2 separate regions of the Homo sapiens genome follow, and region 1 is linked to region 2. Evidence: fine-mapped expression QTL. A gene starts in region 2. The other region holds a variant in brackets. All regions are shown on one strand. Distances are from middle to middle.

Region 1 (14,907 bases), 410 kb before region 2:
TTCTATCTTGTTTTTGCCACTGGCGTCATGCTAAGAAAGCCTTTTACCATTCCCAATGATAAAAATAGCCATGTATTTTTGAGTATTTGGGGGTAATTTTTATATTTACATCCACTTATCTGGAAGTTGAATATAATTTTTTTTCCTAAAAGAATAATCAGGCCGGGCGCGATGGCTCACACCTATAATCCCAGCACTTTGGGAGGTCGAGGTGGGCAGATCAGTTGAGGTCAGGAGTTCGAGACCAGCCTGGACAACATGGTGAAACCCCGTCTCTACTAAAACTACTAAAAAAATTAGCTGCGTGTCATGGCGGGCACCTGTCATCCCAGCTGCTCGGGAGGCTGAGGCATTAGAATCACTTGAACCCAGGAGGCAGAGGTTGCAGTGAGCTGAGATCACACCACTGCACTCCAGCCTGGGCCACAGAGCAAGACCCTGTCTCAAGAAATAAAAAAATAAAAAAAGAAAGAATAGCCAGCCTCATCTTGTCAACAAAATGGACTACGGCTGGGTCACTCACACAGGACCATGTAAGCGGCCGTGTGCCTCCTGGGTGGAGGCCATCCTGTGCTGGGGACCCTCCATGCCAAGGAGCTGCAGGGTGGGTGTGGAAAGGCCTCACAGCTGAGTGGGGGCCACCCCAAGCAGCCCGCAATCCCGCAGGGCAAAGTGCAGAGCCAGAAGGAAGCCAAGGGGCTGGGGCTGAGAGAGGAGAGGAACGGTGGGGTGGACTGGGGCTGGGAAGGCCCCAGGGAGGTCCACACCCCGAGGGGTCTGAGTCTTGGGCAAACTCCCCAGGACTGCGGCCGAGAGCAGATCACTGGGGCCACAGGGCTGACGAGGAGCCTCCAGCTCTGGAGGACGGCGGCATGGAGGCTGGCATGCTGCAGCCTGCGATGGCGCGTGTCATTCTGCAGCCTGTCCCCAAGTCCTCAGCGGAGTGGGTCTGCTTGAACACAGACAGTATTCCTCCTGTTTCCATCCATCGGTGACACGGCACAGAAGCGTCCCACCTCCTAGTTCTTCCAAAAGTACAAACCACAGAGACTCTCCATCTCCTACTCCCCAGGACCCCAATGCTCCCCGACGCGTCTGACCTTGCCAAGGGCACAGCAGTGGTGCCAGCAGGCCGAGCCTCTCCCTGGGACCGGGCAGGGTGAGGTGCACAGGACAGCAGCCACCACAGGTCAGGGATTGATTTCAGGACCCCTGGGCTCGGGCCACCCACAGGAGCAGAGTCTGCACAGGCTGTGAAGACCTCAAGTTGGGCCCGAGGAGCCAACTGCTGAGCTGCAAACTCCGGGGAATCGTGAAGGTGAATGGCAGTTGCTGGGCTGTGACCTGGAGTCAGGAGCTGAACACCTGGTGGCTGCTGGGGACAGCCGATCTCCGTCCTGCAGCCTACGACCCTGCAGACCACAGCCAGGCAACAGTGAGGTCAGCCCATGTGCCGGGCCACCGGGCCCAGGAAGGCAGCCCTGCCTGGCTCAGCTCCGCACTGGGTCACTGTGGAAAGAGAGGTGAAGAGGCTACTCCCACTTTGTGGAGCCACCAGCCCACCCGTGGGGACAGGAGCACACCCCACACCTACGGGGACAGGAGCACACCCCACACCTGGTCAGTAGTGCGCACCCCACACCCGTGGGGACAGGAGCACACCCCACACCCGTGGGGACTGGAGCACACCCCACAGCCGGTCAGTAGTGCACACCCCACACCCGCGGGGACAGGAGCACACCCCACACCCGCGGGGACAGGGGCACACCCCACACCCGCGGGGACAGGGGCACACCCCACACCCGCGGGGACAGGGGCACACCCCACACCCGCGGGGACAGGGGCACACCCCACACCCGCGGGGACAGGGGCACACCCCACACCCGCGGGGACAGGGGCACACCCCACACCCGCGGGGACAGGAGCACACCCCACACCCGTCAGCGGACAGCACAAGGCAGTGGAAAGCCAAGTGCTGCCAAGGGAGGGTCCCGAGGGTGGGGCACCCAGGGGGGTGTGGGGTACCTGAGGGTGGGGCACCCAGACGGGGTTACTCAGAGGGGTGTGGCGCACCTGGAAAGCTGCCCTGAGAAACTGAGGCCCTTTGAAGGGCCTTGCTTCAGTAACACAGGGCAAGGAGGGTGTTTCAGTGTGTGGGTGAGGGTGAGGCAAGTGTATCCCAGGAGAGGCGGGGGGGACCCCAGACCCTGGTGCCTACCCCGGAACAGCCCTTTTCAAAGCAGGTGCTTGACAGATGTGGCCCAAGGGGAGGTCCCTTGTTCAGGAGCCTGACAGGGGCCAGCCTGGACCCCACACTCCCGTGTTCCAGCTAGTGCAGAGCCGGGCTTCGGGGGTCAGACTGGTTTCTGAGTCTTGCCCCGCCCGGGCAAGTGGCATCCCTGCACCACCTGAGCAGCTGCAGCCCCATCTCCCTGAGAGGTCCTGCGGGGGGCAGCGAGATCACGGGTGCTGCCGGGCCCACGCTGGTGCGCCGCAATGGCCCTGAGCTCAGACCCTCGGCAGGGCTGGGCCAGGGTGCCCCTGTCCTCGATGGGCAAGTCCTCGAATCACAGGCCAAGGCCGCGGCTTTGTCACTGATCTTTATTCCGTGTTTTTAGCGCACCACATCCAGACAGCACACCCCGAACATTCCAGATGGATCTGCTCAGACTTAAGGCCCGCGGCCAACACCTCTCACATTCAGTCTTGGCGTTTACATACATGAGGAAATGCACACAGGGCTGAACTCCGTGGAGCTTCCTGTTTAAAACATCAACCACCTCGAGAAGCAGGTCAGTTGTGTCCGCAGCCTTCTGGCCACACGGCATGATCTGAGCTGGAGAAGGGGATCCTCCCAGGGCTGATCTCGGCAAAGCGACATGGGGCTTCCTGCACACGGCCGAGGGGCGGCTCTTCTTGTGACGGAATCCCCTCCCCATCTAGAAAAGGAGGCGGCAGGAGGAGGAGGCATGGCTGGTCTGAGGAACCCTTGACCCTGGGGTGGGGACACGGAAGGCAGGGGTAAGGCGTGCCCGCATCTGATGTGAAGCAAGCCCATCCCTTTGCTGGTTTGGGAGCATCTGACGTTTGCACAGCATTTTGTGCTAATTTCCATGCTGTGTGTAATGACCCTGGATTTTTAAAACAGAAGCAGAAACACACACATCACTTATGCCTGTATGTCCCACAGTCTCTGGCAGTGTCCTAGGGCCTGGGAGAGGACACGGCTGCTCCTGAGGGACAGAGGAGAGTCTGGGAAGTCAGTCACCAGTGGGTCGCTGAGGACGTGAGCCTGTCCTGGGCTCAGGGATCAGACAGACTGTGGCTGTGGCCCTGCCCGCATTCCAGGGGTCATGCAGCCTGTGACACACCGAGGGAACGCTGGGAAGCCAGTCCCAAGGCCCCTGGAGCCAAGGACACAGCCCTAGCAGGGCGCTGGGCAGGGACCAGCTCTGGGCCCTTCCGCACTTAGAGCCCCAAGGAACCAGTCCACAGCGGGAACCAGTCCAGGGCAGAACCAGTATACAGCGGGAACTGGTCCACGGCGGGAACCAGTCCACGGCAGAACCGGTCCAGGGCAGGAGTGGTCCAGGGCAGGAGTGGTCCATGGCGGAACCGGTCCATGGCGGAACCGGTCCACGGAGGAACCGGTCCATGGAGGAACCGGTCCATGATGGAACCAGTCACACCTCCCCTACACCTGGCAGACCTGGACAAGGACAGCAAGTCCCAGGAAGTCTCCAAAAGCTCATTCCGCTTCCAGGCTGCGGTGAGAAGAGCACTGTGGTTCAGGGCTTTGATGACAGGGACGCGACCCCCTGCCCGTCTGCCAGCCCAACATGGCCCGACAGCCTGGGTGGGCCTCCAGGGGCTCTGGCTGAGGCCGGCGCCTACCTGCGTGGCGGGGCCACTTGGCCCTGGACCTCAGGGAGGTGGGGGTTTCTCTCTTGTAAAAGAGGTTCAAGGTGGAAAGTAAGGCGATGGCGAGGCCTCCCTCTGCTCCCAGCCTTTGGTCCCACGGCCTCCCAGGCACTCGGCGGGCTCACGGCTTGGACTCCAGCCTTCAGCTTCCCAGCCACGTTTAAACCAAGCAAGCAGGAAAACACACGGAGGGAAAGGGCCAGCAGCAGTGAAATACAGCTGTGAGGGGACCTCGCGGCACAGAGACCCCGGGTCAGCGCAACGTCTCGGTCTAGATTTTGTCTACATTTTATTCTTTCACTCAACAGAATAGAAGTTTTGCATTTCAGAGTAGGTATGAGATGGCCACTACCTCGTTCCGGCCCTGGCACCCAGACAGCAGGACTCCAAAGAGGGTCGGCCTCCTAGGCTGCCCCGGACTAGGGGCAGCACGAGGCAGTCATTTGGCAAGGACATTGCAGGGAGAGGGAGAGGGGACCCCTGACCTGCCTCTGGCCGCCGAACCCGGGGCCCTCCCCTGGCTCTCTTTGGTATCTCAGAAAACAAAGGCTGTCCCTGTCTTTGTCAGCCCTAGACCAGGTCTGTGGCCCATCTTCACCAGCTCCCCTGGAGGGTGGGGCCACCTCACAAGGCCTTTTAGCAGCCCGGGACCAGCTCACAGGGGCCTACCACCAGCCAGGCAGGTGGGGCGCGCCACCCGGGACAGTGAGGCCAGCTGCGGGTGGGCCTGGGCTCATTTCTTGTAGTGATTGGGGGCGTCGGCAAAAGCAAACTTGAGGCGGTAGGCCTCGGCCAGCAACAGGCTGATGTCCTCATCATCCCAGTGGGCTGTGGGCAGGTTCTGGAGGAAGAGCAGCAGCTCCTGGGGAGAAAGAGACAAGCCCAGGTCAGAGGAGGTGACCCACGGTGGAGGGCGGGTGACCCCAGAAAACTGGAGGGAAAGATACAAGCCCAGGTCAGAGGAGGTGACCCACGGTGCAGGGCGGGTGATCCAGGAAAACTGGAGAGAAAGACACAAGCCCAGGTCAGAGGAGGTGACCCACAGTGGAGGGTGGGTGACCCAGGAAAACTTGCCCAGCCGGCAGCTGCTCCCTGCTCAACCCCAGAAGGGCCCCAGGCCTCGCCCCACGGCCACCGCCCCATCCCAGCAGCCAGGCAGGAGGCCCACTGCGCAGCTCCAAGTCCGGCATCTGAGATGTCGTGGCAGGGGCCGCCCAGAGCTTCATTTAACTGAATCCCCTGCCCCTCAGGGGGAGACCCAGCTCTCGGGGCCCTGCTGCAGCTTTGCAGCCTCCGCCCAGGAGCTTCCCACTCCCACAAAGCCTGTATCAGCCCAGGAAGTACCGCAGCACCCCTGGAACTGCCACTAAGCACAGATTTCTGTGCACCAGGAGACCCCTCCGGGCACCAGCACCATCAGCAGATGAAGCCCACACGAGGGGATCACAGAACGGAGCCGGCTCAGGCCCACCCCGGGAGCCCAGGAGCACAGCAAAGCGCCAACTGGCCCCTCCTGCATGACCACCTCACACCAGTGGGTTGGGGTGCAGGGCTCCACCAAACCCAGCTTCAGGTCTAGGTCCAACCTGGTGCCCTGGAACAATGACTCCACCCCGAGGCCCAGCTTCCTCCTCTGCAAAATGGGGCCACCATTTATTTATTTATTGCTTTCTAATGTGCTTATTTGCCTTAGACTGAGATTTAAAAATTAATTCCAGTTACAACCAAAGAAGGCCTTTCTGTGGAAGTGACATTTGATCAGACTCTTAAAATTCAGGTAGGATTCTCATAGGTAAAGA[T/C]AGGAGGTAAAAGGTTTTACATAAAGGTGAATGACATGCATGTAAGTAGGAAAATAGGGAACTATAGGGAATAAGCAACAATTATAAGTCGTTCAGTGTGGATAAAATCATCTTACATGTGTATTTTTAAAATCTCGCCTCCTGTACCCTTCATTCTCCCATTCTACTTCCCAGTCACAGCATTTATTGCATTGAATTCACATAGTACAAATTTTTATTTACTGTAGTAAATTACTGTCAGGGCTGCTGGACAGACTGGGAAAACACACATACGGCCAGCAGTACAGCCAGCACTGGGTGGGCACACAGTGGGCTCCATGGGCATGCTAGGTAGACACACCAGGCTCACTGAGCGGGCACACTGGGTGGACACACAAGGCTCACTGGGCATGCTGGGTGGGAACACCGGGCGGGCACACCGGACTCACTGGGCTCACTGGGCACTCTGGGTGAGCACACAGCTCACTGGGAGTGCTGGGTAGGCTCACTGGGAGTGCTGGGTAGGCTCACTGGGAGTGCTGGGTAGGCTCACTGGGAGTGCTGGGTAGGCACACTGGGCTCACCGGGCGCACTGGGCAGGTGCGTTGGGCTTACTGGGAGTGCTGGGTGGGCTCCTCTGGCCTGCAGCTGGGCCGTGTCTCAGATGGGCTATGGGGGCACTGAGTCCCACCCCCAAAAGACACATGGGCGACTGTCTCCAGAGCTCATGGTCTGGAGGCCGGGATGCGGACACTGAGGAGATGGAGACTGACCTACGTCCACTGAGGCCACAACGGGGAAGGAAAAGCACAGGTCCTCGGGGGACCCCCCACGACCACCGCCTGACAGCCCCGCCCTCCCACATGACCACGCCCACATCCACAGCTGCTGGCAGCCCACCAAGGGCAGGGCAGGTCTCCGGGGACCCCAACACACAGAGGGCTTGGCAGAAGTAGGGATCAGAGAGGGCTGAGTGGCCAAGACAGCCTCCTGCAGTGGGGGTTCTCAGAAGAGAAACAGGGGACCATCAGGTCAGGGCCAGCCCAAGCCCAGGCTCTGTCATGAAGCTGGGCAGACTCCCTGAGGGAGGGGTCTACACTGCTCAGATGGCCCTGTGGGCTCTGGTCCTCGAGAATTTGCCCCCAGGGGGCCACCTGCAGGCTCCCCGGCTTCTCCTACCTCCCACCCCAAACAGAAGCTGGATCCAGGAAGTCAGGAAGGCGGCTGAGGAGCCCTCAGGGTGCTGGAACTGCCCTTCCCCACTCCTAGCAGGTGACAAGGGACAGGGAGGGCCACAGGCTCGGGATGCCCATGTCGCCTGCCTCGAGAAAACGCAGCCCAGCAAGACTGGCATGGAGGGGAATGGGGGGTAGCTGGGCTCTGAAGTTCACATCCTGTCTTCCTGTCCAGGTGGTCTTGGGCAGTGGGCCTGGCTCTCCAAGCCACACTCTTCTTCATCTGGAGATAAGGATGGCAGGCTCTCCACATAGGCACAGCCAGGATGAGCTGAGCTGTGCAGGCACAGAGCCTGGACAGATGACCTGGGCTCACATCCTGGCTGTGCCGGAGGCTGCCGTCTGCATGTTGCCCCACCCTCACTGAGGCAGGCCCCCCGGCCATCCCGGAGCTGCGCTCTCCATTTCCGAATCAGGAAGATTACACACCAGGACTGCCCTCTCTCCGGTCCTGCATCAGGAGGGTTACACACCAGGACTGTCCTCTCTCCGGTCCTGCATCAGGAGGGTTACACACCAGGACTGCCCTCTCTCCGGTCCTGCATCAGGAGGGTTACACACCAGGACTGTCCTCTCTCCGGTCCTGCATCAGGAGGGTTACACACCAGGACTGTCCTCTCTCCGGTCCTGCATCAGGAGGGTTACACACCAGGACTGTCCTCTCTCTGGTCCTGCATCAGGAGGGTTACACACCAGGACTGTCCTCTCTCCGGTCCTGCATCAGGAGGGTTACACACCAGGACCGTCTTCCAATTGCTATTTCGCAGTTGCTGGGCTTCCACCCCCACTTCCTCAATTCCATTTCCTTTCGCATTTTGGATACTTTCAGTGGGCCTTTAAATTGAATTCAGGGAGCGAATTTCACTGGCTAAAAGTCCCTGGGGACATATCAACATCAATCTGCTGTCTTTCACCATTAGATGCAACTTACATGGATGCCAATCCAATTCTGAGCAGGTCATAAATAAATACCTTTGGTTTTATTTTTAATCCACTTCGCTTCATATTATCATGACCTCGCTCCTTGCAAGGTGAGAAGCAGTACCCTCCCATTACGGTAACTCACCGACTCTACTGCACACTCAATTTCAGAATCTAATTTAGTCCGCCAGGTTCACTGGATGGAGGGAGAATAGAAATGCCCAGTTCTTCGCAGCCTGCAATGCTAAAGAAGGAAAAATCTATCTGGGTGACCTTTACGGGAGGAGAAGAACACAGCCAAACACATCCTTAAATACAGATTTCTTTTTTAAAAAGGCTTGTCTTATTTATGCACTAGGCCACGTCGTCTCCTGTCTGGGAAACGCGGCACATTTATTAGCCAAGAGCTGTTCTGCATCACCCACACCAGGCAGGCAGAGGGGCCACCACGGGCGAAGCCATCCCTCGGTCACATTCAGGGACATGGCTCTCCCAGCAATGACGGTGCTGCCTGTCCAGGAGGGCAGGTGGAGAGAGGCCTGCCCAGGGCCCAGCCCAGAAAACTATAGACGGCACTTGCATTTTCATTCTTAACTTTTCCATAAACAATTAATGGCCACATCTGTGGATCTAAAAGTTAAAGGAAGGCTCTGCTCATCACACTGATGCTGTAGAAGTCAAGGTCGCGTCAGGTCTGCAATCCGTCCCTCCCCCGGTCCCTGGGGCACCACCATCTCAACAAAGCCACAGCCAGAGGGCAGCGTGGAGTGCACCCTGCCTTTCTCCATCAGCCTGTGTGCCGAGAATCCTTCCAGTGGACACCGAGTGTCTGCAAGGGCCCTTTGTAAAGGCTGTGGGGTCTGTGATCAGTGAGGGATCAAAAGCAACAGAATCAGACTCTCGCTGCATGGCCTGGAGGTTGACGGTTCTCAGGCCTGACCACATGTCCATCAGCACCCAAGGAGCTCAAAAAAATGCCCCATTGTCCTGGCCCCAGCCCAAGCAACTGACCTGGGATCTGGGAGGTGGGGCCTGGGGAGAGGGATGTGTTGGTTCTCAGGATGGTGGGCGACTTGGGTGTGCCCTAGACACTCTCGGACACATCATGAATCACAAGAGTGGACAGAGTTGCTCACGCTTTCCACCAGGCAACCCCTGTTGAAGTTGAGGGCCGGTGGGGGTGGGGGTTGGCCCTACCCACACCACCCAGGCAGAAGTGGAGCCCTGACTCACACACCACCATGCAGGCAAAGGCATCTCTCTAAAACGTCAGTGAGTGGGACACAGGGTGGAGGTGGGAAGCCAAGCTGGGATGTTTCCAACAGTTTCCCCCCATGGACCACACAGCAGTGGACCACACTTAGACAGAAGCCGCCATGCCGCTCACTCCTGCCCCGGGCGGGTTCCAACAGGTGAGGCTCCCAATGCCGGAGGGCAGGTGAGGCTCCCGATGCCGAAGAGCAGACGAGGCTCCCAATGCTGAGGCTCCCGATGCCGAAGACCAGGTGAGGCTTCCGATGCTGAAGAGCAGGCGAGGCTCCTGACACTGAAGAGCAGATATCGCCATGGCTTTGGCTACTTCTTACCAAAAGGGTTTTATTTTTCCTGAGTCAAACGAATCCTAGTGCCATCCGTGGAGGACACTGACCTCCCCCGCGTGCCAGGCCTTCCCAGGAAGGGTGAGACGGTGACAAGCCCGTGTCCTAGGGCCCCAGGCTCCAGAACAGTGGGTGGGTGGGTGGGTGGTTGACTGCAGACCCTGGGTTCCTTCGAGACCCTGAGCTCTGAGTGGCTGGCCCAGGGCTGAGGCTCATGTGAGAACGGGCAGCAGCGAGGGAAGCAAGATCACTGGATTAGATGCGGGAGTGCTGGGCCCGAGCCCGCCCCCAATGCTGCCTGACCCCACGAGCACTGCAGATGCGTCCCTGCTGCTCTCCCCAGCATCTCCACCATCTACTTCAACAGGTCTGTGTGTCCCTATATCCCCAAAACCGAGCCCACAGCACTTGGCTGGGCAGTGAGTTCTCCCCAGCATCTCCACCACCTACTACTTCAACAGGTCTGTGTGTCCCTATATCCCCAAAACCGAGCCCACAGCACTTTGCTGGGCAGTGAGTTCTCCCCAGCATCTCCACCACCTACTACTTCAACAGGTCTGTGTGTCCCTATATCCCCAAAACCGAGCCCACAGCACTTTGCTGGGCAGTGAGTTCTCCCCAGCATCTCCACCACTACTTCAACAGGTCTGTGTGTCCCTATATCCCCAAAACTGAGCCCACAGCACTTTGCTGGGCAGTGAACGTCGCAGAGTCCGGTGAAGCAACTAAAAGCACATCTGAATGTGCCCCACGGCCACGTTCAAATCCCAGCCCTGCATTTATTAGCTACACAACCCTGGGCAAGTCTCATAACCCTCCATGCCTCAGTTTCCTCATCTGTAAAATGGGATAATAATAGTGATAGCAACAGGAGACAGACAAGTTCCTAGACAGACAGGGATGGGTCCCCAGTGAAACCTGACCTTCAAGCCAAGGATACTTTTAGAGCCTGAGCACCTAACTGCCAGTTCTGGATAGAGTCCACGACCGGAGTGAGAACTTCCATCCCCGTCTTACCCACTCTCTTTCAACTGGTTCCTTCTGAATGATGCCCTTTATCCAATCGAATGGTGCTTTTTCCAAGCCCATCCATGGACCTATCAGCATGCACTCCCCCATTCAAAGCCCATAAAAACCCTGGACTTACCCTCACAGATGGCCACCCTGCTTTCAGGTCTCTTCTTGCAGCTGAGAGCTTTCTTTCTGTTCCTCAGTAAAATTCTACTCTGCCTTACTCTCTGGCGTCCACGTACCTTATTCCTCTTGGCTGTGGGACAAGAACCCAGAACTTGCCAAACTGCGAGAGCAAAAGAGCTGTAATGCTTGCTGAGCTGTGGGCGGCAGGAGTAAAAGAGCTGTAACCCTCCCTCCCACTTGCCGAGTTATGGGAGCAAAGAAGCTGCTGGGTGCCACTCCTTCCCACTTGGTGAACCGCTGGAGTGAAAAAGCCAGAAAAATAATAACTCCCTTATTAGGTTGTTGAATGTGTGCAAAGTGCCTTCGGCAATGCTTGAATGGCTGGTTACACCTTCCACTACGGGGCTTCTGGTGCCCACGATGAGCCAGGCACATGAAGGTTCCCCGCTGTGCACCTGCCTGGGTGTTACCTGGGTGTTACCTTTCTGTGTGTATATGCAAATTCAAGGACATGCATTTGCATGAAGAACTCCAAAAGGACCATCAGCCAAAGACGAACGTGGTCATCGTTGGGAGAAAACGTGATGATTTATTTTTTACTTATCCATAAATTCTAATCTTTTCAAAATAAACATGCATTAGCTGTATACTAAACATAATTTTTAAAATAAAAGAAGTATAGGGTCTGCTCTGAGATCATGCTGGATCCTCCTTGTCCGGCTGGGCAGCTGCCAGGACAGTGCCCCGCCTGGTGCTGGAGCTCTGCTTACAAGGGTAGGGAGAAGGCCAGGTGCTGTGGGGCATCCCCCACACTGCAGCTAGAGCACCTGGAGCACCAGCTCCCACCTGTACCCCGGCCTCTCTCCTCCAGCAAATGGGCCTGAGGTCCAGGCCCTTCATGCCAGACCTTCTCACAGGCACTGCAGGTGTTCACTGGGTGACCACATGCCCAGGGCTGCCTCATGCCGGGCCCCACTCCAGGCACTGAGGACACTCAGCCCACAGCCCTGCAGGGCGTACATGTATGAGTGTGTGTGCCAGTAGGTCAGGCAACAGATGGAGAAATAAACAAGAAAAGAGACAGTGTCCAGCACTATGCAGAGAAGCGTAATGGAACCATGGGATGCAGGCTACCGCAGACTTCGCCTTCAAGGGCCATGAGTGGTGCGTCTGAAACAGGGCGGGTCTGTGCAGAACACACTCTAGACTTTGAATATTTATTAAGAACAAAAGAATGTAAACTATTTCTTTTATAATTTTTATATTGATTCTAGGTTCAAATGATAGTATTTTGGGTGTTGGTTAAATATTTTATTAAAATTAATGACACCTGCCTCTTTCTTTGTTTTCACGTTCCTATGTGGCTGGTGACACATTCCTTCTGGACAGCACTGTTCTAGGTATAAATCCTGCCTCCCTCCTCTGCCTGCTCCAGGCCAGGGTCTGCTGGCAGCACTGACCAGTGCTTCCCTCCCCTGGACCCTCTGTGCACACTGAAGATACCGGAAGGCTCCCCCAGGCAGCAGGAAGGGCTGTGCGTGCAGTGGCAAAACTCGTCAACACCTGCTCCCGGGCACAGCAGAGAGCACACAGAGGTCCACTTAAAAGCTACTCAAGTCAGAAGTTTACAAATTGCCAACATGCAAAGATGAATAAATTAATCACGATGGGGCTAAAAGGCCCATTTGCCTACTCTTGTTATTTTCTTCCCCTAACAGAGAAAGATGAAACAGGATTCACCACGGTGACATGCGACGCGGGGAGCAGGGTTAATTGGTTTAATTTGCTTTTCCACAGCCTCCTGACACTCCGCGTGTGCAGCCTGGTGAGAAACCCTAACCACAGCAGGTGCTGTGGAGTGCCAGCTGTCTGCAGTGGGGAGGCCCTGATGCCACCTGGGGAGGCCGCTGAGGACCCCCGGGGTCCGGGGGGCAGGGCAGCAGCATGACATTTCCCAGCAGGAGGCCCTCGGGCATTTCTCTTGACCCCTCCGTCTTTTAGGTGAGGAACCTGAGGAGCGGACAGGCTGGGCAACTTGTCCCAGGAGGCATGCAGCAAGCCCGGCAACCCTGTGGCACCCACACTGCAGTCCCATTCCCCATACCACTGTCGGGGGCAGTGGGGCGGGCGACATGCCTGCTCTAGAGCCAGGCAGGCGACATGCCTGCTCCAGAGCCCAGCAGGCTAGACCTGGCTCTCCAAGCACTGTCCCTGGAGGACAAGCCCCTGTCTATGAGATGGCGATGGCGAGGGGAGCCACCCCCAGGCGAGAGGGGCAGCGATACCCGTGCTGGTGCAAAGAGCTCCAGAAACTCGCCCTGTTGTTTCGTGCTCATCATGACCACTGCCCTCTATCTGCAAGAGTTGCAGGCACCTCCTGGGAGGTGGCAGAGGAGCCCTTCGCAGGTGCCATGAGGGCTGAAGGGGTCCGCGCACCCCCTGGAGCGAGACAGGCAAACACGAGTCACTCCCCTACCCCTGACACATCCTCCTCACCACAGGGCCCTGGCAATCACGAGCCCTGGCAATCACAGGGGACGACGGCCACACTTGACAGAGCAGGAGGAGGCCAGGAGGGCTGAGGCCAGAACAAGAACAAAGGCCCTGCCATGCCTGGACTCCACCCCCTGCCCTGTGGAGAGGCTGGAGTGAGCACCGGATAGGCCCCTCTCGGTCTCACTGGCCCCTCACTGTCACTCCTACTCCCGAAATGACAACAGTCTCCATGGACCACACATTACAGAGGTCAAAGATCGTTGATCCTACCCAAACCCCCGGGCCTTTCTGCAGACAGTGGAGCATTTGTATTCCTCCTGCGCAGGGGCTGCAGGGTCTGAATCCATATTCAACATGAAGTATCCGCTTCCGTGACGTACATGTGCAGAGGAAGGAATGGGACCAGCTGAGATGAAATCATGGCGAAAAGGTCCGCTGCTGTCAGCGCTGCCAGCGGAGCGACCCCAGTGAACTTCAGGCTGCAGAAGACCCGCAGATTGTGCTTGGCCCACTTCAAGTTCCTGAATGAGGCCATTTCCTTCCTCCCGTGTCTCCATTTGGGCTGGGAAATTCCTGACTCGACACTGACATTCAGCCTTAGGAAACAGGCCCAGGAACCCTCTGTGGCCGAGAGACCGCCAGTCTCCTCAGCAAGGGCAGGGGAGACCCAGCACTCGACACACAGGCCATGCCAAGGCACAGGCCGTCCCATGCCCCAGGCAGGCTGGGACCCTCGCCGAAAAACCTCCCTAGGAGGAGCTCAACCTGACACTCCCCAGGTCCTGCCTGTCCTTCACACTCAGGTGACGAGGGGCTGCCCTGGACATGCATAAGTGACAAGTGCCTCCAAATCAGTTCCCTAACAAGACCTGCTGAGAGTACACTGGGCTTGTCAAACAGGACTTCAAGCTGGTGACCGAGGCCACAGAGGCCCATGTCTAAGGAGCCGGCAGAGTGTGTGCCTTTTCCTGTACAAATGAGAACGGCCTGCGGGGAGGGGCTCCTGCTCCAGTGCACACCCTCTGTGACACGCAGCTTCACGTGGCTGGGCCAGCTTTGCCTCACCCTTGGCGCAGCCCACGGAGGCCTCGGGCTCATCTGAAGCCGGCTCAGACCTCCGCACAGCAGCGTCAGAGACACAGGGCTCAGCTCTGTTACCTGGCGCGGTGATGGCTGCTTCGTACAAGGAAAAGCATGGGCCTTGGAGGTGTTGCCACTGGAAAGAAGTACGGCCATCTTCCCAAGGTGGCCATGGGCTGCTCACAGCCTAATGATGAACTTGGTGCTGATATGTGCAGTTATCCTGGGACAGGCGACCCACTGGACTCTTGGCGTCCCAGTGCTCATGAACCCTGCTCAGTGGTGCAAGTGTGTGCATGAGGAAACGACCCCGTGGTGCAGGTGTCAGGACCGGGTGGCTTGAGATCCAGATGCCATGAGCCCCGGCTGCATGCAGGCACTGGTAGCACTGGCAGCACCGTGCTGTGCCCACCCCTCAGAGGCAGTGCCTGTCCCAGGCTCCTGCACAGAGGCCTGTGCTTTCCTTGCTTCCCTCCACCGCCCTTCCCTCCTACCCTCTGCCCTCTCCTGGCTGTTCAGGCTCCCACAGCAACCATGGCTGTCCCTTTCCCATTGCAACCTCACCCGTCTGCCTTCTGTGTAACTCCAGGTCACCTTTCAAGACTCCGTGAGGACTGAATCGCACACACCGACCCTACCACCTTCAGATGCACCTGTGCTCCAGGAGGCCCTGCCTGTCTCGACACTGCAACCAGGGACCTTTGGTTTCAGCCTCCTAAGAATGGCATTTAAAGGTTCAGA
Region 2 (14,907 bases):
ATGTATATGTGTGTATACATATATATGTATATGTATATATACGATGGAATACTACTTAGCCATAAAAAGGAATGAATTACTGGCATTCGCAGAGACCTCGATGAGATTGGAGACAACAATTCTGGGTAAAGTAACTCAGGAATGGAAAACCAAACATCACCTGTTCTCACTCATAAGTGGGAGCTAACGGCTAGGCATGGTGGTTCACGCCTGTAATCTCAGCACTCTGGGAGGCCGAGGCGGGTGGATCACTTGAGGTCAGGAGTTCAAGACCAGCCTGGCCAACATGGTGAAACCCCATCTCTACTAAAAATACAAAAATTAGGCGGGCATGGTGGCATGTGCCTATAATCCCAGCCACTCGGGAGGCTGAGACAGGAGAATCACCTGAACCCGGGAGGCAGAGGTTGCAATGAGCTGAGATCGCGCCACTCCACTCCAGCCTGGGCAACAGAGCAAGACTCCATCTCAAAAAAAAAAAAAATAGTAAGTAGGACCTAAGCCATGAGGATGCAAAGTCATAAGAATGACACAATAGACTTCAGGGACTCAGAGGAAAAGGATGGGAAGCGGGTGAGGGATAAAAGACTGGGTTCAGTGTATACTGCTCGGGTGCACTGTTCAGTATACACTGTTCAGTGTATACTGCTCAGGTGCACCCAAATCTCACAAATCACCACTAAAGAACTTACTCATGTAACCAAACACCACCTGTTCCCCAGTAATCTATAGAAATAAAAAATTAAAAAGAAAAACAGAAAGAAAAACAGACAAGTGGTCTCCGAAGACTTGTTCTCCTCAATTCCATGAGGAATCCCATGGTTCCTCAAAAACACTTGGAGGCGATGGGGTACTTCCTCCTGCTCTTGTTACTTAAGAAACAAATAAATAAATAATCCAAAATTGTCAGGGATCAATCATTTTTGTCTTCATTTAAAATTAACCCAGAGTCCAGATTTACTCTATCAGACGAATATGTAAGAGAAAGGAAATATGATTCACATTCAATTTATTTTTCAAAGTGTTTCTGGACAAAGTAAGACATTTAATAACATGGAAAGTAACCGCTGAAAGGAACAAGAAAAGGAACTGCACCTACAGCAAAATCTCACCCACCAGCTCTTCCGCGGCCCCCGTCACAGGAAGGTCATCTCCACTCACAAACAAGAAGAGAAACCCAACTGGCGGGGAACACACAATCACTGCCGGAACAAGACTCCGGGGCTTCCCTCTGCATGGAAAACAGGACTGAGGGTTCTTACCCAATAAACAATCTCTTCAAAACATAAGCAAAAGGCAATACAGATTTATAAAAAACACAAGAAAGCAAGGCGGCCAGAAGCAGCAGCCAACATTCTGAGGAAAGAGGCAGGGCTCTATTTGGTTCCTAGGCCTGAGCAGGACATAGGACATAGGAAGAACCCTCCGAGCTGACTTCAGTCCCCTGGGTTTAAACACACTTTGTGGAGGTTACCCAGTGACCACCCCCAAGGCCGCTGACCAAGGTACTCCTGCCCACATCCAAGTGCAGGACTCTGCTGAGGGAGGTGCTGGGCCACCTGCCATTCCCTGTCAGACATCCCTCGGCACAGTCCCCAACTCTTCACAGCTGCTGTAACAAATTACCACAGCTTAAAACATGCATTCACTATCTCGAAGTTCTGAAGGTCAGAAATCCGGCATGGGTCTCATCACACTGAAGTCCAGGCGTCAGCCAGCTGTGCCCCTTCCGGGAGGCTCGAAGGGAGAACCCCTTTCCTGCTCACTCCGGTTGGCGGCAGAATTCAGCTCCTGGCGGATGCAGGAGCAAGGCCTTGCTCTCCTGTTAGCCATCTGCAGAAGGCCTTTCGCAGCTTCTAGAAGCCGCGCCACATTCCTGGTGGCTGCCTCCTCCATCTGCAAAGCCAGCCGCTGTGGGTGGAGTCCATCCCACACCATGTCTCTGACCACGTCCAAAAGCTCGTGAGGTTACACTGGGCCCACCAGGTAACAGGACAATTCCCCCATTTCAGGTCAGCTGATTAGCGACCTTAATTCCCCTCTGCCATGTAACAGAACATATTCACAGGGGTCAGGGATGAGGATGAGGACACCTTTAGGGGGCCAGTATTCTGCCTACCACACTCCCATCCCCTCAGGCCAGCACCCTGGAGATCACCTCGACCCCCAGCACCCCGCCCATCAGTGAATCCTGAGTGTGCCATGTGTACCCTGAACATGCCCGATCCTCTCCAACCCCACAGCATCTGGCCTCGGCCTCCTCAGAAGCCCACCAGTTTCCTCTCTCGCCCTCTCTTCAAGGATGACAAACAGTGTCACAGTATCACACCCCTCCCTGTTTAAAACCCTTCAACACTCTCTCATGGCTCTTAGGACCACAGCTCAGATCTTCACCATGGCCTTGGAAGCAGCTCCAGTGCCTGCTCACCACCCTCCATGCCCCTCCTCCCCAGTCAAGCGCTCCCCACTCCTATACACCCTCCCCTGACCTCAGCAGCCAGATCGGTTCCTGCTGTACAGCCAGGTCTCGGCGGAAGCGGGACCTGTGTAAGGAGGACATGAGCATTCCACCCAGTGAGGGCCTTGCTACTCTGCCAGGGTCCCGGGACTGCCACCTGCCCAGCACTGCAGTCTGTGCGCATGTGTTCACAGGGCAGGCGTCCAGCCGTGAAGAGCCACATGGCTTGCTCAGCACGCACCACAGCACCTGGCACAGGAGAGGAGCTCGTAAACGTTTTCCAAATGAATTCATTATCCCCAACAGTGCCTCTCCTTCGGCTGAGGACGGACTGTGGCCTATTCAGCCGACCGTCTGATTTGCTCACAGACATCTCGTGGCTCTGGCAATGTAAGCTGAAGGCTGTCAGAGCCACATCACTAAGAACCCTCTTGTGCTCCAGCTTTATCCCAGCACTCACATCCTTGCCATGCTCAATTTGGGCCTTTCTTGCTACCATAACACTTTCTTTTTTTTTTTTTTTTTTTTTTTGAGACAGAGTCTTGCCCTGTCGCCCAGGCTAGAGTGCAGTGACGCGATCTCAGCTCACTGCAACCTCCACCTCCCAGATTCAAATGATTCTCCTGCTTCAGCCTCCTGAGTAGCTGGGATTATAGATGCCTGCCACAATGTCCAGCTATTTTTTGTATTTTTAGTAGAGACGGGGTTTCACCATGTTGGTCAGGCTGGTCTCGAACTGCTGACCTCAGGTGATCCACCCGCCTGGGCCCCCCAAAGTGCTGAGATGACAGGCATGAGCCAGAGCGCCCAGCCACCACCATGCCACTTTCAAACGTCATACTCCACATACCCCAGCTGCCTGCATACCCTCTGTCAGCAGACCACACCCTGCCAGGCGGAGCTGAGCTAAAATAGCAAACATCAGACCCACACTGAAAGACTGCCTGTGTTCTCAAGCCCAGTGTGCTGTGATTTTGTCTTGGCATTTTTAAAGTGAAGTGTGGCGAGAATTCCAACTGCAACTGCGGAAAGCAACAGCCCTTCGGGAGCCAAGAGAGTCAGCGGCCCGGGAAAGAACCAGCCCAGACAGTCAGAGACTGAACCTTCAGATTCTATTTTTTTTTTTTTTTTTTTTTTTTTGAGACAGAGTCTCGCTCTGTTGCCCAGGCTGCGGGGCGGTGGCGCGACCTTGGCTCACTGCAACCTCTGCCTCCTGTGTTCAAGCGACTCTCCTGCCTCAGCCTCCCAAGCAGCTGGGATTACAGGCGCCTGCCACCACGCCTGGCTAACTTTTGTATTTTTAGTAGAGACGGGGTTTCACCATGTTGGCCAGGCTGGTCTCAAACTCCTGACCTCAAGTGATCCACCCACCTCAGCCTCCCAAAGTGCTGGGATTACCGGCGTGAGCCACCGCGCCCGGCCAAACCTTCGGATTCTTATCACTTACCATTTCTTGCCACCACCACAGCTTCCACTCAGGTGCAAGCCGCCACCACCAGTGACCACTGGACGCTGCGGCACCCTGGCCTCCTGGTCTCCCTGCTTCTGCCCTTGCCCCGACTCCCAACGCCTCCAATCTGTCTTCAGTACAGCAGCCAAAGATATCCCATTAAACCTAATGCAGACCATGCCACTTCTCTGCTCAAAGCCCTCCAAAGGTTCCCCATTCAGCCAGAATCAAAGAACAGTCCATGTCTTCACTGTGGTCATGAGGCCCTACCCCACCACCTTTCATGACGCACCCCACGACTCTCCCCTTCTCTCGGCCAGACCCACCCTGGCCCCAGCTCCTCTCCTCAAGCACGCCAGCATCGCTCTGGGAGTCCTCTGCACCTGCTCACTCCTCTGCCAGGACCGCTCTTCCCCAGCCTCCTGGTTGGCCTGTTCCCTCACCTCGTGCAAATCTTTCCTCAAATGTCACCTCAGTGAAGGGCTCCTTCTCACCACCACACCTGCCACTAAGCCACCTAGTCCTCTTTCCCAGCATTGTTTTGATAGCAGCTGTCACCTTCCAACAGTTAACTCCATTTAACTGAGCTATGTTATTTATACCCGGCTCTCCCACTGCACTGTAAGCTCTGGGAGAGCAGAGATCTAGGTCTATTTTGTTCACTAATATTATCTCCAGCACCTGGGGCTGTTCCTAACACATACTATGGGTTGAATACATATTTGCTGGATCAGCAAATCATCAAATTCTCAAAACTGGTCCAAGAAGCCCATTCTTTTCTCCTCAAAGAGAATCGTGCTAAGCCAAAGATATCTCCCCATTTGCCATAGCTACTTAAACCAAACTCAACCGCTTTGTGCTACAGATACAGACACTGATGGCCCCAGAGGTAACTTGGTGAAGACCACTACCGGAAAAAGAAAGTTAAAATCTGGACCACCAACTCCTAGTCCTCTGACTAGGAGGGTCTATCTACCACACCACACATCCTGGCTCATCCAGAAACAAAGTTTCTAGGAAAGCGTCAGCCACATATGCAACCTAAGGACCAGGGTGTGCATAAACCGAGGGTCTACCAGCAAGACCACCTCTCCTGCAGTTTATAGCCCTGGCCAAACCACTCACTCTCCAGGCTAATCGAGGAGATAGTTCGGAATAAACACCAGGTATCGGTACTGACAATGCAAGAATGAGAAAGATACTTTTCCTAAACCTGTGGATCTCACTAGTGAAAGCAAGCACATACCAGGGAGAACAGGAAGCCAGAGGCACCAACAACACTGAGTTTGATGCAAAAAAGGGGGACTTTAGTTCAGGCTGCATAAAAACAGGAGGTGTGGGCCGGGCACGGTGGCTCATGCCTGGAATCTCAGCACTTGGGGAGGCCAAGGCGGGCGGATCATGAGGTCAAGAGATCGAGACCATCCACACCAACATGTTGAAACCACATCTCTACTAAAAATACAAAAAAATTAGCTGGGCATGGTGGTGGGCGCCTGTAATCCCAGTTACTTTGGCAGCAGAGGCAGGAAGATCACTTGAACCCGGGAGGCAGTGATTGCAGTGAGTCTAGATCACACCACTGCACTCCAGTCTGGGCGACAGAGCGAGACTCCATCTCAAAAATAAAAAAGAGTTGAACTATCTGAAAGATCCCTTACTAGTCTTGTATTGTACAGTGGGTGTAGTCTTCCTCCTGAGTTTCCTTGAGATGAGGGCTGCACTCAAAAACAAAGAGGAAAACAAGGCTGGGTGTGGTGGCTCACGCCTGTAATCCCAGAACTTTGGGAGGCTGAAGCTGGTGGATCACATGATCAGGAGTTCAAGACCAGCCTGGCCAACATGGTGAAACCCCATCTCTACTAAAAATACAAAAATTGCCGGGCACAGTGGCTCAAGCCTGTAATCCCAGCACGTTGGGAGACCGAGGCAGGAGGATCACAAGGTCAGGAGATCGAGACTATCCTGGCTAGCACGGTGAAACCCCGTCTCTACCAAAAATATAAAAAATTAGCCAGGTGTGGTGGCAGGCGCCTGTAGTCCCAGCTACTCGGGAGGCTGAGGCAGGAAAATGGCGTGAACCCGGGAGGCGGAGCTTGCAGTGAGCCGAGATCGCACCACTGCACTCCAGCCTGGACAACAGAGTGAGACTCCGTCTCAAAAAAAATACACACACACACACACACACACACACACACACACACACACACACACACATAAATTAGCTGGGCGTGGTGGCCAGTGCCTATAATCCCATCTACTCAGGAGGCTGAGGCAGGAGAACTGCTTCAACCGGGACCCAGGAGGTGGAGGTAGCAGTGAGCTGAGATCATGCCACTGCACTCCAGCCTGGACTACAGAGAGAGACTCTTGTCTCAGAAAAAAAAAAAAAAAAAGGAGGAAAACAAGGCCAGGCATGGAGGCTCACGCCTATAATCCCAGCACTTTGGGAGGCTGAGGTGGATGGATCACCTGAGGTCAGGAGTTCGAGACTAGCCTGGCCGACATGGCGAAACCCCATCTCTACTAAAAATACAAAAAAACAGACAGGCGTGCTGGTGGGCGCCTGTAATCCCAGCTACTTGGGAGGCTGAGACAGGAGAATCACTTGAACCTGGGAGGCAGAGGTTGCAGTGAGCCAAGATCACACCACTGCACTCCAGCCTGGGCAACACAGTGAGACTCCATCTCAAAAAAAACAAAAACAAAAACAAAAACAAAAAAAGAAAGAAAACAATCATGGGAAACAATTGAAAGAGCTGCCAAAGCCACAGGAACCTGGCTAGGATCTCCACTAGCACTGTGCTTGCATAGGTGTGGACTAAATAAATACGCAGCTAGTGACCAATCACCACTACTGATAGGAAAACGGGCACCCCTCTGTGACTCCTCCTTCAGGGAAGAGTTCCAGCCTGCCACCTGAAAGAGCAGCACTGCCAGAGGCTTGAGCCACAAGACGGATGGGAGACACAGAGGCTTCACAGGCCTTCCTGGTGCACCCAACCTCTCCTTCTTCTTCTGCCCTCTTCAGTGACAGCCTCGAACTCTCCAAGACTCCAACTTCACAAAGGTAATACAGAAGCTGCTCTCAAAAGTGCCTAAGACACAGAATAGCATCAAAGTCAGAGGAAAAGGAAAGCTGGTGTTCGGTATTTCAGGTTCACACAGAAGAAAGCTGGAGACTGTATTAGTCTCCTGTGGCTGCCATAACAAATTACCACCAACTGAATGGCTTAACACAACAGACACTTATTCTCTCTCAGTTTTAAACGCCAAAAACCCAAAATCAAGTGGTCATCTGCAGGGCCATGCTCTCTGTCAAGTCTCTAGGTGAGCATCCTTCCTTGCCTCTTCTAGCTTCTGGTGGCTGCCAGCAACCCCTGGCTTTCCTTGGCTTGTAAATGTACTATTCCAATCTCTGTTTCTGTCTCCATAGGGCCATTTCCCTGTGTGTGTCTCTCTGTATTCAAATTTCCCTCTTTTTATAAAAATACTAGTTGACGAACTAAGGCCCACCCTCATCCAGTATGACCTCATTTTACCTTGATTACTTGTGCAAAAACCCTATTTCCAAATGTCACATCCATAGTTTCCAGATGGACATAAATTCAACTCAGTATAAGGACAAATTACCAAGAGCCACAGCCTTCAATCCAAAGGTTGAGTCACTGCTGTAACTCCACACAGCAGCTCTGTTATTCTTACATCTAAGCTGATTAAGAATTAGAGTTTAGACTGATGAGGAACCAAAACCTTAAGACCTAAAAGTAACACATAAAAGTTACACTGTCATGTGGCTCCTCTTCCCTGGACTCTTATGTTCTACAGCATTTGTTCCTGTCACTACCAGGACCTCCTACCCACCACCATTCCAGAATCTTCACTCACCTTGGACCCTGACACTGGTTTTGTTGAAAGGTCTTACTGTTCTCGAATCAAGCACGGTCCTGTGGAGTCGAATAGGGTCTCCGGCCACCTTTGATGACTCCCTTCATTCTCAAAGCCACTGTCTGAGCTGTCAGTAACTCACGCTGCTAACCCCCAGATCACTCTTAAAAGTAAACTTTCCTTTTTTTTTTTGAGACAGAGTTTCGCTCTTATTGCCCAGGATGGAGTGCAATGGAACGATCTCGGCTCACTGCAACCTCCACCTCCCAGGTTCAAGTGATTCTCCTGCCTCAGCCTCCCAAGTAGCCAGGATTACAGGCATGTGCCACCATGCCCAGCTAATTTTGTATTTTTAGTAGAGACTAGGTTTCTCCATGTTGGTGAGGCTGGTCTCAAACTCCTGACCTCAGGTGATCTGTCCACCTCGACCTCCCAAAGTGCTGGGATTACAGGCGTGAGCCGCCACACCTGGCCAAAAGTAAACTTTTCTAACTGGATGCAGTAAATTCCAAAGTTTATCATTCAAACACTCAAACAATAATATTTATTATGAAACAGGAGTACAAACCATTTTACTGTGTTTATGAATGATTCTACTCAGACTTATCTTCGTAACACAATTCATAATTTTCAGCATTCCAGACTTCAGCTTTGGAACAGAACTATGTTCTGAAATCTTGACGTTTGCTTATCTCTGATCTGTTTTCACCAGTGGCTGATTTTATCCTAGGTACCCTCCACGTAATGTCTCATTCCCTAGGGCCCTGGCATAGCTCAGCGCCACAGCAATCAGACAAGGACTCTGGAGCTCTGGAGCTGTATAGCATCTAGGGTGTACCCAGGTCATTCCAGCCGAAGAAAAAAAAAAAAAAAAAAAAAAAAAAAAAAAAAACTTCCTGCTAACACAACATAGGAGGTGGTTTTGACACCAGCAAGCAGAAACATGGAAACTCACAGGGAAACTCTAGTCCTCTTCTATGCTCAAGGCAAGAGCCGCAGCCCTCAAGAGACCACAGGCAAATCAAGTGGGTCAAAAACACCACACCCCCTGCAGAAACTGATCCACCCAGCAGACGGGGGGCCTCAGCCCGGCCAGCTTCCGGACTCCACCAAACTTCACAGCATGACCCGAATCAGTTCCTTCCAGCCTCCCCAAGGAGCCCAGGAGTTTCTCGGAAAGAAGCCTGCCAGTGTCAGGAAAAACGCCAATAGCTCCTCCTCGTCCTTGCAAGCCTCGATCCTACGTGCAGCCACTGTCACCCCCAGACCCCACGCTCCGACCTCCGAGCCCCCCAACGCCCGTCACACCATCCAGCAGTCTCCTCAGAGTCCAAGTTGCCCTCTCCAGACCCCCGACTCCACCCGCAGCCCAGGAGGCCAACGCGGCCACCTGACCTCTGACCCCTGACCCCGACCTGGCCCTCCGCGGCACACCCACCTGCCCGGGAGCTTGCTGTTGCTGCGCTTCCAGAATTGCTTCCTGGCCCCGTCGCTGGCCATGGCCCCTCCTCATCCCTCAGACCCGCGGCCCAGACACCCCGAGTGCACCCGGCCCTCCCCTAGCGGCCCTTTCCTGTGCCCCGGGTGGCCCCTCACTGCTCCCGGGACTCCAGAGCCTAGAGCCGAGAAGCTCTTCCGCCTCCTTCCGGAAGTTGTGCCTACGCGCGCCCGGAAGTCCCGCCTAAGTCCCTGGTGGCGAGTGACGCAGCACTCCGAGCGCCCGTCGTTATTAAAGGGCGACGCCGCGCAACGCACGTTACACGCATCGCGGAGGGAGCGGAGGTGGTTGGGTTTCTGAGTTTGAGTCTGTCGCTCCTGGCTCTCCCGACACAACAGCGGCGCCCACCTGCCCGCAACGGACTCCCAGGAGCCTCGAGCTCCTCATTTCCAAAGCTGAACTGCCCCGTGTCTGATTCCGATTTCTCTTGAGCGCGTTTCGGAGCCGGCCCAGAACAGAGGGAAGCCAGACACACCATACCCGGCCCAACAGTGGCAGGGCGGCTGCGGGTGCTGGTCAAGCTGGGTCACCCGGCACTGAGTGACGATCAGCAAATACTCAGTGGACGAAATATTTGCAGTGCAGTGAGGTGAGGGGCATAACCGCGGAGCGTATTCGAAGAGATGAGAGAGACTGGGGATTAGGCCAGGCTTGAAGGGAAGAATGGTTTGAGCACCGAGGACAAGAATTAATTCCCCAGGCCTGGGTTCCAGCCTTGTGCGGCTATCACGTGCTTGAAACCTGGCTAGTCCGGAGTGAGATGCGCTTTACGTGTAAAATACAGGATTCCAAAGACGTCGTATAAAATAATTTGTATATTGTTTGCATGTTAGGTAACATTTTTAATGTATTGGATTAAATAAAATGCATTAAAATTATTTTTACATTCCTTTTACTCTTTTTAAAATTATTTTTACCTTTTTTATTCTTTTTTTCCGGGGGGGACTGGGGGTGGGTGTCTTGCTATGTTGCCCAGGCTAGTCTCGAACTCCTGCCCTCTAGTGATCCTCCTGCCTCACCCTCCCCAGTAGTTGGAACTGCAGGTGCACACGTTATGACTAGATCTTTTTACTGTGTGTGTGTGTGTGTGTGTGTGTGTGTGCAGAAAATCACTAAAAAAACCGTGTCTGGTTTGCATTACATTTCTGTGCTTCTTAGACCAAAGATTGAATGCTCAGGGACTGTCATTTCAGACTGGAGCTTTAGTGTATTTGGAGCTCCTGCCAGTTCTCTTTTAAAACAAAAATCTAAGACATATTTTCTGATTAAGAATTTCCCTGGAGGCTGAGGCAGGAGAATAGCGTGAACCCGTGAGGCAGAGCTTGCAGTGAGCCCAGATCGTGCCACTGCACTCCAGGCTGGGCGACAGAGCGAAACTCCGTCTCAAAAATAATAACAATTTCCCATGCCTCTTCATTTACTGGTAAGTAACATTGACTTAGTACTTACTATGTGCAAGGCGTCCTACTCTCCTAGAATCCTCTCCTAGTAGGGCTCAGAAGGCCCCAGGGGTCTCCTCCTGACAGAGCCCTGACAGCCTCAGACAGTGAGGTCCCCTACAGACAACACTGAGGACCATGGCGGTTCTTTCCAGCTCAGTCTGGCTTATTGCAAGAACCAGTGAGCGAGGTGACAGCAGGATTAACCTGATGGAAGGGGAAAGGAAGGAAGAACTGAAACAATTGACAGAGGAAAAACTGGCAGCACTTAGTGACTGGTTACACCTTAGATCCGGGTGCTTTTTATAGCTTACCGTATACTTTGCTAGCTACTGTTTTCAGGCGAAGGAGTGAGGCTGAGATTGACTTGAAGGCTTCAAAACCAGCTAAGCAAAGGATTACTAGGATCACAACAGAAACGTGAAGATGGAAAAAGAAAGTCTGAGTAGAAGGCCAGTTTTGAAAGCCAAAGTAATACAGATGTTGGAGTCTACATATGGGACCTAGGAATTGGGACAGATTCTCAAATCCCAGAGGTATGGAATGGAACATTTTTTATTCATTTTTGCAACAAGTATTGAGCAGCAATGCAAATTAAAACTAAGGACATACCATGTTACACTTAACAGATTGGCAAAAACTTAAAAACCTGTCTTTACCAAACTTAATAAGGATGTGGATTTGTGAGCAGAGCAGAACTCTCTTGCACTGCCAGTAGGAGTGTACGTTCATTCACTAACTTTGGATGGCCACTTAGCAATTTCTAGCAAAGATACTCTATAACTTAGCAATTCCACTCTTGGTATGTGCTCTAGAGTACCTTGCCTATGCGTGCAAACACAAGAATGTTCAGTGCAACGTTGCTTCTAGTGGTAGTTGGGGTCTGGGGGAGAAGCAACCAAAATGCCATCTATGGCAGAATCGATAATCTACACAGTTATGCAGTAGAATACCATAAGTTAGTAAAAATGAATACATTAGTTGCATACATCAACATAAATGAATTTTGCAAACTGTGGGGTTGTTTTTGAAATGGGGCTTACTATGTTCCCCCGGCTGGCCACAAAATCCTGGGCTCAAGTGATCCACCTCAGCCTCCTGAGTAGCTGAGTACAGATGCAAGCACTACCGCACCTGACTCCACAGTGTTGAATGAGAAAAAGTTGAATATTAATTCACATGGTATGATACCATTTAGTACTATTTTCTTTTAAAGGATGAGAATGCGACCAGGTATGGTGGCTCATGCCTGTAATCGCAGCACTTTAGGAGGCTGAGGCAGGAGGATCCCTTGAGCCCAGGAGTTTGAGGCTGCAGCAAGCTGTGATCATGTCACTGCACTCCAGCCTTGGCGATAGTGCCAAACCCTATCTCAAAAAAAAAAAAAAAAAACCAGAATGGTAAAAGATAAATTCAGGAGGGTGGTTGCCTATAGGTACAGGTGGGGACTGTGAACAGGAAGGAATTCATTCATAGCGGATCAATTGTGCTATTATGCTTTGTTTCCTAAGGCAGATGGGCTATATTCAGGTGTTGGTTATATTCTTTATGAGTTTTTACATGTATAAAATGTTTCATAATACATTAAAATATAGTTATTGAGTTTGAACTGTGCTATGCACTGAGCTACATTGAACTACATGATAAGGCAAACAAAAGTGCAGCAGGCCAGGCACAGTGGCTCACACCTATAATACCAGTACTTTGGGAGGCTGAGGCGAGAGGATCACTTGAGACCAGGAGATCAACACTAGCCTGGGCAACATAGGGAGACCCCATCTCTGTGAAACTTTTTTTTTTTTCTTTTAGCCAGTCATGGTGGTAAACACTCTTAGTCCTAGCTACTTAGGAGACTGAGGCAGGAGGATCACTTGAGCCCAGAAGTTCAAGGCAGCAGTGAGCTAGGATCACACAACTGCACTCCAGCCTAGAAAACAGTGAGACCCTGCCTCAAAAAAACAAACAAAAAAAAATTGGGATAGTATTTCAGGATGGCTGGATTTGCAATGCCATTTGGGTTCCTCGGGAAGTGTTTTCTGCTTTCTTTGCTTTCAGATGGCCTGCTCCGGGCTTAGAATATCTCTCACAGGACCTTACTGAGTGAGCTGCCACACTCCCACTTGGTGGGTTCTGCCTCCTAAGTTTCCTGGTGCTGTACCGTCCATAGGCACCGAGCCTGTGCCCCAAAGTAAAAAGCTGACTGTTCTATCTGTATTGGTTTCCTAAGGCTGCTGTTGGCAGAATGCTGCAGACTTAGCGGCTGAAAACAATACACATTTACCCTCCTACAATCCTGGAGGTCAGAAGTCCAAAGTCTTAGCACTTCACTGCACTAAACTCAAAGCGTCAGCAAGGCTGCCCCCTTCTGGAGGTTCTAGGGGAGAGTCAGTTTCTTACCTTTTTCAGCTTCTAGAGGCCACTTAACATTCCTTGGCCGACACTCCTTCCTCTGTCTGGAAAGCAGATCACTCTAATCTCTACTGCCATCATCACATCATCTTCTCTCCTTCCGATTCCTCCTAGATCCCTCTGACCTCACGTCAGGCCCACTGGATAATCCGGTCCAGGCTGATCTCCCCATCACCCGGCCCTTAGCTCAATCACACCTGCAAACTCCCTTTGGCCATTTAAGGTAACATTTGCAGGTCCCAGGATTAAGTCCTGGTATATCTTCAGGGGTTCATTATTCAGCCTACCACAATAATAGACGGCATATAGCAAAGGTCCCCAGTTTCACACCGCGAGAGGCAGGCGTCGTCTTCACTGCCCCCTTCCCCAACTCCTTTCAGCCATTTTTATATTACAGGGACTAGCAACGTGCCATTTCCTGACACTAAGTCAGGATGAGTTAGGGTGCTGTTGGTTGCAAGAATGACAAAGTTCAGCTCAAATTAGCTTATACTACAAAGGGAATTAGTTGGTTAATGAAAAAGCCCAGAAGTAGCTCAGAAGGTTTGGAGAAGGGCTGATACAGCAGCTCAACAATGACCCAAGGGGCCTGTCTCCTTCTGTCAGTCTCTTAAGTCTTTGCCAAGGACAACTTCCCCTTGAGGTCACAGGATGCCTCTGTTGGGCCCCTGGGATCATGTGCTTACCTCTAGTCAGGATGCTAGAGAGCAGAAATACTGTGAACTAGTATCAGTCCCCGGGAAGGGAGCACTATACATTGCTTACCAATTCCAGGAGAGCACACTTAAACACCTCACCAATTTCTGCTGAGTTTCCTAAGACTGCCAGGAGGCTTTGCACAAACCCAGCAGCCAGAGTTCTGCAAGGGTTCTTGACTCTGGCAGGGGCTCAAAGCTGACCTAGCTGCTGCAGCTGTCATACCTCCACCCTCTGTATTCTTTTTTTTTTTGGGACGGCGTCTCACTCTGTCACCCAGGCTGGAGTGCAGTGGCGCAATCTTGGCTCACTGCAAGCACCACCTCCCAGGTTCACGCCATTCTCCTACCTTGGCCTCCCAAGTAGCTGGGACTACAGGCGCCCGCCACCACGCCCGGCTAATTTTTTGTATTTTTAGTAGAGACAGGTTTTCACCATGTTAGCCAGGATGGTCTTGATCTCCTGACCTCGTGATCCACCCACCTCAGCCTCCCAAAGTGCCGGGATTACAGGCGTGAGCCACCGCGCCTGGCCTACCCACTGCATTCTTAATGTCTAGTCTGGTAAAACAGAACACCTGCAAAACACGTCAGACAAAGCAACTTTATTATTCACAGAGAGGCCCCAAACATCAACCCAAGCCTAGGATCCATGGCGAGCCAGTCCACCAGCAATCAGGAAAGCTACCCAGGGCACTAGAGTGTTGTCTGCAGGTGCCCCCACTTCACACCACAGCTGAGGGGCGTGAAAAGCACACTCTACTCTGGGTTCTCTACCCCAAATGCAACTGGGTCCACTGGGCTACAGCATTGCAGGACATCCTGATCTAGGGGAGATGAGCACAAAGCCTGAGCTGTTCGGGACAGTTCCACCTTATCTCAGGATGTTGCAACCTCTGTATATTCTGCCCAAAAATTCTAAGCAAGAGGGGGAAGAGCTGGGTCATCCAGTGTCATTTGGGGACCTGTCACCTGGCAGATGCTCCATTGTAGCTGGCAATGAGAGTCAATCCTTCCAAATTTTGTGGCTGCTGCCCAACAAGGGAGGGTTAGAATCCCAATATCCAGGA

Evidence for each region. PIP is the estimated chance that this variant, and not a neighbour inherited with it, causes the effect.
Region 1: its variant is fine-mapped to the expression of TBC1D22A in tibial artery (GTEx, PIP 0.90).

Annotation. Positions count from the first base shown.
Region 1 is chr22:47,163,374-47,178,280 of GRCh38, reverse strand. It overlaps TBC1D22A (TBC1 domain family member 22A), which reads right to left. Exons shown (of 13, transcript NM_014346.5): 13 at 2,588-4,783. The coding sequence ends at 4,655. Among named protein-coding and RNA genes, the nearest start is that of TBC1D22A-AS1, 250 kb to the right of the region's middle. RefSeq lists enhancers at 1,340-2,430, 6,528-7,027, 12,848-13,425. The variant T/C (reference allele first, on the strand shown) is at 5,721.
Region 2 is chr22:46,757,176-46,772,082 of GRCh38, reverse strand. TBC1D22A (TBC1 domain family member 22A) reads right to left here and starts at 9,433. Exons shown (of 13, transcript NM_014346.5): 1 at 9,235-9,433. The coding sequence starts at 9,296. It overlaps TBC1D22A-DT (TBC1D22A divergent transcript), which reads left to right and starts at 9,555. Exons shown (of 1, transcript NR_186691.1): 1 at 9,555-10,172. RefSeq lists enhancers at 7,716-7,765, 7,786-7,865, 7,906-7,975, 8,906-8,985, 9,686-9,815 and 5 more and a silencer at 8,726-8,785.